Linked DNA regions of Homo sapiens: region 1 is linked to region 2. The links come from fine-mapping of genetic effects on gene expression. Tissue or cell type: monocytes after interferon gamma. Region 2 holds a variant in brackets; the other region holds the start of a gene. All regions are shown on one strand. Distances are from middle to middle.

Region 1 (2,500 bases), 74 kb before region 2:
TTAGAATGAATCTCCCATTCCTAGACAAGGAAGCAAACTCAGGTTAAGTGACTGACTCAAGGCCACACATCTATGTGGTAGGGCTGGAAGATTCTGACATTCAGAGGGTAACTTTGGAGAACCCCAGGGCTCAGACTCAGATTTTCATCCTGGCCTTCCTACCTGCTGTGAGAAGAGTTGATCAGTTGGGATGAGTTGATTATCATCTCCTTCCTTTAACTCTCAGCCACTCAGGGTTGATCAACTGTCCTCAGATAATGGGACAAACCCCTGCCCTCCCACCCCCACGAGCACCCACATAGGTCCAAACAGGCTTGAACTTCCTCAGTGTGAAAGGGAGCCACAGCCCAATACATTTCCCTTTTCTGGGTCAGGTTCCTCATCTAGCGTGGAGGGCAACTGTAATTTTTGCCTTTTCTGGTAATAGTAGCTCAGTTTTCCTCTGGAGAACCATCTCTCCCCTGTCAGTCCATTATGTTTTGAGTGAAACAAATTCCACTCCTAGTGCCATCATGGGTGTATTAATATTAGCTCACTTAATGGAACAGCCCAGGGGAAGTGGTTGCTCAATGGCATTACTGGATCCAGGTTAGGATTATCTGAGAATACATTTATCTGCATTTTACGGAAGGCAACCGAGGTTCATAGAGATAGTGATTTGGCCAGCGTCACAGGCCCAGTAAAAGGGATTGAAAATCCAGGTCCGTCCGACCCTAAAGCAGGGAACTCTGCCTAGTGTCTCGCTGTGGAATGTTAGGGATCCTGGGGTACCCTTCAGGGTCTTGGCTCGGAAGGAAAACATTCCCCTCCGAGGGGATGGACTATATTACCAAGGGGGTGGAGCCAGATGCCTGAGGGGGTGTGGCCAGAGCCTGGGGCGTGTCACAGCCGAAGGGGCAGGGCGGCAGCAGCAGGCGTCTAAGTAACTTCAGCGCCTGCGCAGAGGCTCCCCAGCGTCGCCCTAGGCTGGGACTCTAGTAGGTCTTCGGCTCAGTTTTGGCTGCAGCGCCCGCGTAGATCGCTTCGGCCGGGTTCTACGCCCGGCTCAACTATGAGCCGGTGCGCCCAGGCGGCGGAAGTGGCGGCCACAGTGCCAGGTGCCGGCGTCGGGAACGTGGGGCTGCGGCCGCCCATGGTGCCCCGTCAGGCGTCCTTCTTCCCGCCGCCGGTGCCGAACCCCTTCGTGCAGCAGACGCAGATCGGCTCCGCGAGGCGGGTCCAGGTGAGGGGCGTGGGTCTGAGGGGAGAGGTGGTCTGAGGGGGGCCTAGGTCAGAGGGGGGTCCAGGTAAGGGGTGTGGGTCTGAGAGAGGAGGGCGGCCGAGGGGGGCGTGGGTCTGAGGGAGTGAGGTGGTCCGAGGCGGGCGAGAGTCTGAGGAGGGAGGTGGCCTGAAGGGGGCATGGGTCTGAGGAGGGAGGTGGCCCGAGGGGAGCCAGGGTCTGGGGCGGGTCCAGGTGACTGGTGTAGGTCTGACGGGGGAGGGCGGTCGAGGGGCGCGTGGGTCTGAGGGGCGTTGTGGGTCTGGGAAGCAAAGGCATCAGAGGAAGAAAGAGCAGTGGATCTGAGAGGAGAGGACTTCTGAGGGGCCGTGAGCCTGAAAGGGGCGGAGATGTGTGTCTGAGAATTGAGGACATTTAGAGGATGGTCTGAGCGGGCACGGGAGGAGAGAAGATGCTGGGAAGATGCGGGCCTGAGAGGAGAATCCAAAACAGGAAGAGACTGAGCTGGCTGGTGGCGCAGGCTACATTCCATGCCCCAGAAGGTTGAAGGAATCTGTGAATCTGTGACAGAAGCTTCAACTTGAGTTTATGAGAGTGTAGTGGGAGGCAGATCTACTACGGGAGAGTAGATTTGAAGAAGTCTTTTTTTTTTTTTTTTTGCCTTAGGAAGGAGAGGAGTCAGTATGGGATGGATAAGAGTGAGGCAGAAGGCAGAGAGCCTAGGTCTGTGGTTAGAACAACAGGTAAGGCTGGAAAGATTTAGCTGAGCAGGAGCATGATGGAGGGTGGGAAGTCAGAATCAAAGAAAAGGGACAACTGAGTCAGCTTAGGATGTTCAAGAAGTTTTGGTCCAGAATCAGTCTTCACCTAAAAACGTTTCCTAAGTTGAAGCATGAGAAGTAGTAGCCCAGGCTGTTTTCCATTGTTAAAAATGGCTATACTGTTATGCACAAAGGAAGTTTCCTTTCCTTTCCTTTTTCTTGTAAAGGGTTCCTTTTACCATTGGCAGTTGCACTCTTTGGACTTCCTCTTTGTTGAAGTTAGTGATCAGAGAACAAGATAGACCCTGCTAACCACATTTGTCCGTGTGTTCTGCGGGGGTTGGGGGGGTGGGGGAACAATTTTGAAGTTTTCATGTCCATCTCACACATTACTTTGGATTTGAAGCAGTATAATATTTGCAATCAGCTTGTATGCACTAAGACCATTGTCCTCTACAGTGGGGGAAGGTTAAGTGCAGAGCTAAACAACACAGGTGGTGGCTTGAGTAATGGTAGATGG
Region 2 (2,741 bases):
ACAACTCCAGAAACCCCTGTGTGCCCTTTCCCAACCACACCCCTACCTCTCTCTTAAAGAAGGGGGTTGTTATCCTGACTTAAAAAGGAATCTCTGCCTTGCTTTATTTTACTTTAACAGTTCACCCCTAAAGTATGTACCTTTAAATATTAAATTTTAGTTTTGTCTAAGTTTTTGGGCTTTATATAAATAGACTCATACAATTATGTGTTACTTTATATCTTGCTTTTTTCATTAAACATTATGGCTTTAAGATTAATCCACATTGTTTCTACATAGCTGTTTATTCATTTTCATTGCCATATGGCCTTATGTTCCATGAGTATGACACAATTTATTTATGCATTTCTACTGTTGATGGACATCCAAGTTGTTTTTATTTTTTATCTATTATAAATAATGTTGCTGTGAACATTCTCATACATGTCTCTCAGAGCACAATATGCACAAATTTCTCTAGGATATATACCTCAGAGTAGAATTAATGGGTCAAAGAGTATGTATATCTTCAACTTGACTAGATAATGGAAAAACTATCTCCCAAAGTGGTTGTACAACTTATATTTTCATCAGCAATGTTTGTGTGTTGGGTAGTAGAATTTTGTAATAATTGCATTATTAGAGTCATTTATTAATCTGCATCATGCCAAAAGAAGATTCACCCCAACTTATTGGATTTTTTTTCTTTCTCTTCTAGAGGAATTTAAAAGTTTTGCCTTAAAGCATCCAGAATATGCTAAGATATTTACAACATACCTAGACCTCCAGACGTGCCATGTGTTTTCATTACCAAAAGAAGTCCAGACAACCCCCTCCACCGCCAGTAATAAAGTCAGCCCTGAAAAGCATGAAGAGAGTACCTCAGACAAAAAAGATGACTGAAAGCAGTATTTCCAATAAGGAAAACACAGTAGCTTTTGCTTGAAATTGTAAAGGCACTTATTGATAATACTTTTAATGTGTTGGTAATGATGTTTAAAATTGAAAGATTTTTAAAA[C/T]AAAAATGATAGATTTTCTTACTAAAAATGTTTTTATTAACCTTGCTTTTATTGGAAAAAATCAAGCAATATTTCGTTTTCTTTTGTGTTATATTGTACTTTACTGATTCATTTACTGGTGATACATATGTTTTTATGGATTTTCCAGTTTAATTTGCATATACAAATGAATGCAATGGTCTATTGGTGAGCATTGAGCAACACTGTATAAAGTTTTAAAAATGTAAACACTTTTTAATCTACTTTCCTCTAAAAATCAATAATATTCTATTATTTCTAATCCTTTTCCACTTGGGAAATAACAATGAAGAATCTGAGAATTTGACATCTATAACTTTACAGATTCATTTTTCCATTTAAATTTCAGTTTCTTGGATCACTGAATATGGGAAGGGAGAGCTTCACTAATTAGACGCAGCTTCTTAAGAACTTATATTCTCTTTGACATACATCTCTATTGTAGTTTTTTGTTTTGTTTTGTTTTTTGAGATGGAGTCTTGCTCTGTCACCCAGGCTGGAGTGCAGTGGTGCAATCTCAGCTCACTGCAACCTCTGCCTCCTGGGTTCAAGTGATTCTCGTACCTCAGACTCCCGAGTAGTTGGGATTACAGGTGCCCACCACCACACCCGACTAATTTTTGTATTTTTAGTAGCCATGTGGTTTTGCCATGTTGGCCAGGCTGGTTTCGAACTCCTGACCTCAGGTGATCCACCCACCTCAGCCTCCCAAAGTGCTGGGATTACAGGTGTGAGCCACCGTTCCCGGCCTATTGTAGATTTTCTTAACTACTTGCTAAGGAAATCATATCCTTTTACATGAACTACAGGTTTAGAACTTGGTTTTAAGACAACTGCTATGGCCAGAAGGTAAATGGGAATTGCCTTATTGAAGGTAACATTGATTGCCTAATAAGAAAATGAATTGTTTGCCACAGAGTTGAATTTAATTTGAGTTAGATAGTTCAGAATGTAGCACTTGCCCTATAAATGAATCAGATTTGTTCTATTTATATAATATTAGAATTAATATATTATCATGTAAGTGGGAATTTTATTTTGTTAAGTGGACTCTCAAATTTTAGAACTTGTGTGAAATATCTCCCAGAAAACACAAAAGGTTTCAAGGTATCACCCAAAGCTAGGGAATCAACAAACGTACTTTATTAATGCAAGACCACAATTTAAGCCCCAGGCAGGAATCCAACAGTAACATTTTTCCTTTAGGTTAAGCAGTAATTTTTTTGAATTGTCATTTTTAATGGGTCTCACACATGCATATTGCTAATATCATTCATGTTTGAGGTTTTCAACAAAGAACCAATTTATTAATATAATGTACAAAAATAGTTGGTTCATTTTCTGAATTCAGTCTTTGAAATAAAACTCCTTGTTTTGGCCGTGTTTCTGAATGTATTGGTGATTCACCCCCAAGCTAATTTTTTAAAGTCATTTTTGAAGTTGGGAAGTCTCATGAGAGATGTTGAAGTATGTATTTAATCAAGAGTCATGATTTCAAACTAGTTTTACATATTAAGCAGTTAGTGTTCTAATTTAATGGGTAAATGTGTGTTTGGATAAATATCTGAAAATTTTATCCTTAAGTATATATAATTATTTGCCTCTTATATGTCTTAAAGCTATTTAAACAAGGTGTTAAATGAGCCAAAACAATTAAGTAATTAGAACAGTACATTTTTATCAGAGTGTCTGTCATATGCAATGAATGTATGTAATACTAAAAAA

Direction of the effects. Positions count from the first base shown, and alleles are read on the strand shown. Sizes are in standard deviations (SD) of each study's normalised expression.
For the expression in monocytes after interferon gamma of the gene that starts at base 942 in region 1, C is the low allele of the variant in region 2 and T is the other (large effect, 1.3 SD a copy in Fairfax 2014).

What was found. PIP is the estimated chance that this variant, and not a neighbour inherited with it, causes the effect.
Region 1: LPCAT2 starts here. The variant in region 2 is fine-mapped to the expression of LPCAT2 in monocytes after interferon gamma (Fairfax 2014, PIP 0.95). The same link has a PIP of 0.9 or more in monocytes.

What each region holds. Positions count from the first base shown.
Region 1 is chr16:55,508,131-55,510,630 of GRCh38, forward strand. LPCAT2 (lysophosphatidylcholine acyltransferase 2) reads left to right here and starts at 942. Exons shown (of 14, transcript NM_017839.5): 1 at 942-1,222. The coding sequence starts at 1,052.
Region 2 is chr16:55,582,217-55,584,957 of GRCh38, forward strand. It overlaps LPCAT2 (lysophosphatidylcholine acyltransferase 2), which reads left to right. Exons shown (of 14, transcript NM_017839.5): 14 at 698-2,741. The coding sequence ends at 882. Among named protein-coding and RNA genes, the nearest start is that of CAPNS2, 17 kb to the left of the region's middle. The variant C/T (reference allele first, on the strand shown) is at 999.